2 linked regions of the Homo sapiens genome follow. The protein of the gene in region 2 purifies or fractionates together with the protein of the main gene of each other region. This does not show direct contact. Each region holds a gene or a part of one and is shown on either strand. Other genes may lie near its edges.

Region 1 (3,747 bases), on a different chromosome or scaffold from region 2:
AAAGCTGCCGACCGGGCCCTCCGGCAGAGAGGCCATCACCAAGACATCTGCACTTTGCCCCCTCGCTGGGTGGGCTGCATGCTGCCATGAGTCCGTTTAATTTGTTCCCAAACTTGCTTATGCCAGTTATACCTGCTCTTGCAATTATATAATTTAATTATTCTTTACATAAACTGTTAAAATATGATTGTGAAAAGAAAGACTGGTTGTGCACACAAAGTTCTCTCTTTCTGGAACTAGCTGAGCAGCCCTGGGCTGCGGATCCTCCCCCTCAGCCCCCTTCACCGCCTCTCACCCAATGTGCACCCACAGGCTTCTACTTTTCACAGGCCTGGGGTCCTCCCCTCAGAGGAGGCTGGGGCTGAGACTGGGCAATGAGCCGGGCCCTTGGCTCTGTCCAGAACACTCTCAGAGCTGGCCAAGCGCCGCTGGGGACAGGTGGTACCTGAACAGTTCCTTGGAGGCGTCCCTGTGGCTGAGGCTGGGTGTGGGCCCTCCACTCTCACAGGCGGCTGGCAGCAGGAGGGAGTCACCCAGGGGGATGGCCCCGCCGAGGTCAGGATCATCAAATAGCTTCAGGGCTGTGGGAAGGCAGCAGCAGGGGGGTCAGAGGAAGCCTCTAGGCTGGGATGCCATGGCTGCTCTCTCTCTGCCCCACCCCAGGAAGTCTTCTGGGCAGTCCTACAGGAATTGATGCCTCTGCTCAACCTGTCATAACTGGTGCTGCTTTGTAACTGTCAGGCAATGACCTGTCTCCCCAGGGGCCCCCGGGGCCCTCGGGATAGGGACTAGGGACAGGGACTAGGTCTCACTCCTCAGCATGTTCTTGGGCCTGGCCCTCAGTGAGGGCTCACCAAGTATGGGCTGAATTAGTGGGTGGCATCAATTCCCCTCACCGGAGGACGACCTGGGCATGTGAGGAAAGGGACCAAGGGATGAGTGGAGATGTCCCAAGGCCGCTCGGTTTTCCCTCTGCCAACTCTGCACAGAGCCCTCCAGCAGAGTCCATGCAGGCGACACAGAGTCCCATTAAATCCAAACCTACAGTCACACATGTGCCCTAGGCAGGCCCTATCGCTTACCACACAAACAGTGCCTGGAAGCCCAGGGCCCACATCTGCCCACAGATGTCATGGAAGCACAAAGCTGAGTCTATATCACATCTAAACAGGACAGGGGAGATATATGGGTCCTATTCACGCCGGGTGAGTCCAGACCCTGCCTGGTGATGGGGCTGGGCACCGAGAGGACACCAGGAGCAGACCATGGGGCTCTACTTACGGTCCACGGATGACACGTCCTCCGAGGGGTCCTGTGGAGACAGCTTCCTGCCCGGGCCAAAGAGCCCCTCATCAGGGTCCACCTCCTCGTCAAAGATGGTGAGCCGGGGCGAGGGCTTGGCTTTCACGGCCACTTTGGGATGTTTCTTGGGCTTCTTGGAGCTGGAGAATCACAGACAAAGCACAAGGTGAGGATTTCCCACAAGTGTCCAGGTGGTCCGGTCAGACCGACACAGGCGCTGGGCCCTGCAGTGGAGGGGCTGGATGCCATGGGCCAGAAAAGACCAGGCCAGAGGGACCAGGGAAGTCCTGGAGGGGGCCACCCAGAGCAGTCCAGGCAGGTGGAGCTGAAGTCTTTCTGAAATCTCTAACAGATGGTCACACGGCCAAGGGAAGGACAGGTCCTCCATCCCAGGGGAGAAAAGCAGGCCAGCGAAGGTGGTTGAGAAGCAGGTTTCCCCAATGACAGAGTGGTAAGGCCCCCGCTACTGTGGGCAGCTGTGCCCTGTGTTCAAGAAATGACCACTGTCAGGAGGAGCAGGCGGCTGCCAGGACCGGGCACCAGCTGCCAGACAACCCCAGCTCTTAGACGCCTTCAGGCCTTGAGTCTGCCATGCGGTCACAGGCCAGAGATCACACTCCCATTCGGAAGGTAGAGACAGCTGCCTGGTCTCAGGGTCTCAGCACTTGGGGGCCAGGCTCAGAGAACCACACTCCACAGCCACTCAGAAATGGGGATGGACCTGGTCTTGAGCCACAAACCTCAGGGCTAGGACTCAGGAGGGCAGAAAGCAGCTTTGGTAAGTGCCTTATTGTTTCCTTTGCATGGTAAAACCACCATTGTTCTAGTTAACACTTGGGTTCTGTGGAGCAGCCCCCCTCTTTCAGGAAGCCTCTCTGGGACTTGCCCACCTCCCCGGCTCCGACTCTGCCACCCCAGGTCCCATTACAGTGCACTTGCCGACTGGCTGAGGAGGTCCTGCTCTGGGCCAGACCCTGCTGTAAGAAACCAGGACGGGGCAGGATGGAAGCTTCTGGGGTGTAGGAGTACTTTAGTTTTGATCCAGGCGGTAGTTACGGGCTGGATAAGTAAACACGCATGGAGCTGAATGCTCAGGATCTGTGTACGTCACTGTAAGTGATACCGCCAGTAAGTAAACACACTTGATTTTACTTTAATAATTACTTTAACAGGCATTCAATCCCTGCTGATGATGTCTATTAGCCATTTTAAGGTTCCTGAAAATAATGAGAATATGCTCTTTACTGGAAACTGAAATTCCGTGTGCCTGTCCGCCTGGCGGGCAGTTCCACTGGACTGAGGTCACTATGTGAGGTCACCATCTGAGCTCATGTTGGTAACACGCTGCGGCAAAACTGCACCGAGAGGCTGGCCTACACAATGATACAGATTAACCAATGGCAGATAAAAATAGCAGAATGGCCCTGGGTGCTGGAGGGGCAGGTCCCCGCAAGGTGACCATTCCCACAGTCTGGAGTCTGAGGTCTGGCAGAATCCCAGGCACCCAGCCGAGGCGAGGAGAAACTATGAAAGCCAGGAAGGCTCCCTGCTGGAAGGTTCCCTGCTGGAAGGCTGCAGGACAGAGCATCCTCTGAGCTCAGAGCCCAGTCCCAGGGGAAGGATCTCTGCAGGGCTCGTTTGTTGGATGAGGAAACAGTGGTCCAGAGAAGCTGAGTGTCTGCCCAAGGCCACACAGCAGGGAAGGGACAGGCAGGCTGGGTCTAGATTGAGGATGGTCATACTCATGGTCCTATCCTCTTGTCCCCTCCAAATGTCCCATGAGGAAGGTGATATAGGATGGCGCAGGGATAACAGGATTGATCCTGCTGTTCTCTGGGGAGAAAGTGGCATGTTTCAAGGGTAGTGATGGGGAGCAGAGACGCAGTGGCAGGGACTGCTCCAAGAAGGCCCATCTGCCTGGTCCTGTGCTTTCTCCACCCAGCTCAGGCCATGAGGGACCTCCTCTGCTGTGCACCACCCTCAGGCCCTGCTTGTGGTGCTGGAGGTGAGGTGGAGGGAGCCTCGATTCTCCACCCTAAGGGCAAGTGCTTTCCAGAAATCTTCAGCTTCTGCTCCTCTGAGACCTGGAGGAGCCAGGGCTCGCCTGCTCTTACTCAGACATTCTCCCCTTTATTCTTACCAATCAGGCAGAGCCAGCTCGGCTCTCATGACTCCTAGGAAGTGGGTACCAAACAAGGGCCATGGCCTCCTGGGGCAGACAGCAAAGCTGACCCCAGCCAAGACCCACTGAGTCGGAAACCCCAAGCAGGCCCAGGAGGCTGTGTTCAGTCTCCTGTGGAATTCCACGGTCAGCCAGGCTCGCAGCCACTGTTCTGCCCGATGCTTCTCTCCCCTTCATTCCCCATCTCTGCCGCCCTTTGCGTGGCCCTTGCTCCTGGCCCCAGCAGGCACTGCGGTGGGGAAGGGTGGAGAGCCACCCCGGCC
Region 2 (3,747 bases):
TGTTCATTTGAAGTTTTCCAACACTTTTTGTTTGTTTTAATGAGGGCCTCTATAATGCTAAGAAATGTGTGGAAAGAAAAATATATTATGGATACTATTCGCATAAAATTTATTTTTTTAATGTGATAAATTATGAGAAAGCATAACTGAAATTCAAAACAGATGAAAATTCGGAAAGAAAAAGACATTTGGAATAGTATTTGAAGATGCTTCCCCAGAGTCTGAGCCAAGTTTCTGGGATCCAGATGAAATAAGCCCTCAAGGACTGAAGGGCTGTCCTAATAACAGCATGTGTGCAATACGACCTTGAGGCACTTAAAAGTAACATTTCAGGAAAAGTTTTTCCTATAAAAGGTTTCAGAAAAGGGAAATTCTACACTTTGCTCTACTTCTCCACTGCCTAGAAAAGTAAAGTAAGAAAGATACCTCACAAATCTCTCCGCAAGTTGCTGTACGAAATTATAAATTTCAATCCAGTTATTTGCCACACTCCCAGACCTGAAAGATGAAATTGAACTGATCAGAGAAACAAAACACGGAACTGAAAAGTAAACATTTTGAAATGGTTCCTTCTTCAATGCCACGAACATAGGGGCACCTGGCCTCTTTTTCAAGCTAAGTAAGGGTATCTGTAGCTGAAACTTTGGTGGTACCCAGAGTTAAAGAAGTCAGTCCCAGAGCAAGACTCCGTCAAAAAAAAAAAGAAGAAGAAGAAGTCAGCCCGTTTTCTGGGGTGGGTAAATACCTGCCTAATTGTTTAGAGTGGAACCCAGCTCTTCAGAGTAAACACAAAAGCCTTTCTTCGCAGGAAATGCAAACCACATTGGGCATGTTAACCCTAGGCTTTTCCTGGCTCCAATGAAAGCGCTATGATTAGGATAAAACCAGGCAAACTTTAGCCTGCGTACGAGCAGGGTCGAGGAGGTGGGTAAGGACTCTGTGGCCGATGGAGCGTGGCCCGCAAGAGGCCACACTCCCATTTCCCAAGAGGCCAAAAGACTGGCAAACAGTGAATACCCCAACTCCCCAAAGAGCCAAGTAGCCCGGGGCTCCAATCACTACCCCCGACCCGGCTGATCTCCGCCCACACAGATCCGAACGCGCTTGCCCTTTGAAAGAAGACAGCAACAGGGCACCCCTCCGCGGGTTTCCAACACCACTCCCCGGGGTGCGCACACGCATCTCAGCCTCAGCCCCAGCTGATCCAGTGCCGCCCTCACCAGGAGACCCTGGACCTCCCTCGCACACTCACTTGTCCAGGACGAAGTAGAGATCAAAGGCTCTTCTGCAGGAGGGCTGCTCCTGGGCGCGCAGCAGCCCCCCGGGACCGCTGAGCACCAACAGCCACAGCCCGGGGAACAGCCAGCTCCCGGGGCTGCGGGCCGGGGACCGCTCCGCCACCATCCTGCGGCCGGGGGCCTGAGACTCCCTCCCGCTCGCAGTCCCCTAAGCTCAGGAGGGTCGCAAAGGTGGCGGGAGTCACCCGGCACGCACTCTGGGGTGGGGGGCGGCGAGCAGCTGAGACGCCGGCGCCTGCGGCAGCGGGACCCACCAGCTGACAGGGAGGGAGAGAGGGAGGTCCTGAGAGGACAAAGGGAGTCTCCGCCACCGCCGCAGCTGCCGCCGGAACTCTTGACGAATCCCAGTGGAAGCGCGATCCAGTCCTCCCCCTCCCGATTCCGGAGAGTTCCTGCAGACAATGCGGGCCCACGGCGACAGCTCGCGAAAGGAGTTCCTCTCCGGCCTGGGGCCGAGCCTCCAGCGCCCGCCTCGGACCCGGACCTGGAACCCACCCCGCCTGGAGGGCTGAAGTCCCCCCCGCTGCCGTGCGCTTCGGGACAAGGGGTCCCTGGGACGCGGCGACGGCAGAACAAACTAGGAGTGGAGACTCTTCTCCTCCGGCGGCCCCAACTCCCTCCGCACTCCGAAACTTTCCTCCCGGTGCTGGACTCTGGCACTGCGCTGACAGGCCGTCCCCTTTAGGGGAGGAGGCTAGCTGGCCCTGGGACTCCCGGCTGGAGAGAAGCCACGCCGAGGGCAGGAGCCCGCTCGGGCCGGGTCTGGGCTGCGTGTGTCAGTGTGCGCCTGGGGACGAGGGCGGGGCCCCAGCTGAAGCCTCCGAGCCACACATGCACACTTGTGGGTTCCTGCCGAGTTGAAGATGACTAACGCTTGCCAGATTTGGGAAAGGGAAGAAGGAGTTTAGAAAAACAAAAGTTATCTAGAAACTAAACATACCCGTATGTCCTGCAGGCCTGGCCTATTTTAGCAGCTGTGCTAAAACAGCCCCCATGCGTGGTTCACAAACCCAAGACTAAGGATTCCATGGGAGGTGACGGCCTCCTCACTCCTCACTCCACCCCACCCCTACTACCACAAACACTCTTTATGAACTTCCTCTTTTTCTTCTAAAGAAACCTGCTTAGTTTTTTTTTTTTTTTTCTTTAAAAAAAGCCAAGCCAAGGAAAGGCCGGAGTGGGGAGTGGGAGGGGATAGCAGGCCTCTTTGGGAGTGGAAAGTTGTACCTCAAAATATTTCAGCCCACTGTCATTTCCCTGCAAGCTCCAGTTTTGGAGAATTTCAGCTTTGGGCAAGCTAGGTCTCCTTTGCAAAACTTGTGCAAGCACTCAAGTTTGTGCACAAATCCTCTGTCTACTAGTTCTGCTCTCCCTCCTCTCTCTTCCCCCCACCTCCGTGACTTCCGCCCTCCCTTAGTCAAAACTGGCTTTTAGAACCTAAATACCTTTTCATTTTTAACAAAATCAATGCTTTATGTAGTACTTACATATACATCTCTTCTGTTTGTTGCCATATGTATTTAACTTTTCATTTATTATATTTGATATACAACCAGATATGTCAGCTCTTTGAAGATAAAAATTAGTTACTTTAACAAAGATTCATTGAGTGCCTATTATTTGCTAGGCACTGTTCCAGAAGTGGAGGTTAGTGCACAGAACAAGATAACAAGCCCTTGCTTTCATGAAGCTGACAGTCTGGCTGAAGAGTGAAAACAGACAATAAGAAATAAATACATAAGCAAGGAAAAAAAATGTCCATATTGGAAAGGTGGCCTGTAGAAATTTAAAATATTGTGATGATAAAGAATGACAGACTCAGTGACTAACAAAAAAGACCCAGTCATTCCAAGAGCTCTAAGGGGAAACATTTGGAGTTACTGCAAAGGTCCATAGACATTAGCTTAGCATATTCAAAAAAGAAAAAAAAAAAACTGTGTAGCTGGAGCTTTGCAGGTAAGATGATGTAAGACAAATAGGCAAGGGCCAGATTATGTGATGCTTTGTTTACTGAGATAAGGAATTCAGATATTTAATATTGAGTGTGACAGGAGGTTATTAGAGGGGTTTAAGCCCAGGAGTGGAGTGGCAGATGAATTGATATGATCTGTGTTTTTCAAAGATCATTCTGGCTGCAATGAGACAATGAATTTGGAGTTAGCAACAGTGACAACAGGGAGAGCAGTTAGGAGACTATTGCAGTAGCAACATGTTGACAAACAATCCTGAGGTTCATAAATTTGGAAAGGAGAACTTCATTTCTTATAAAGGGTTACAGCTGCAGGCTGGACATCTTGACAGGCTGGGAAGTGTAGCCTCTGGCAGAGACAAAAAGCAGGCACTTTGAGGGAGGAAAGGGTGGAACAGGAATTTATGCTAAATGAGTTGGCCAAGTATACATATTCAACAGGTTATAGGAGGAACTATGAATATTTCTGAAGCAAGGGGT

What was found. Proteins that work in one complex are often made in the same cells at the same time.
Region 1: the proteins of ANTXR2 (region 2) and HS1BP3 purify together in Homo sapiens (affinity purification with mass spectrometry; 2 studies listed by BioGRID and IntAct, with this or other methods). This does not show direct contact.

The regions. Positions count from the first base shown.
Region 1 is NC_000002.12:20,623,451-20,627,197, forward strand, and holds part of HS1BP3 (HCLS1-binding protein 3), read right to left. Parts: intron 1,443-3,747; coding exon 1,282-1,442; intron 582-1,281; coding exon 446-581; intron 1-445. UniProt on the Homo sapiens protein: May be a modulator of IL-2 signaling.
Region 2 is NC_000004.12:80,071,157-80,074,903, forward strand, and holds the start of ANTXR2 (anthrax toxin receptor 2 isoform 1 precursor), read right to left. Parts: upstream 2,074-3,747; 5' UTR 1,405-2,073; coding exon 1,253-1,404; intron 499-1,252; coding exon 427-498; intron 1-426.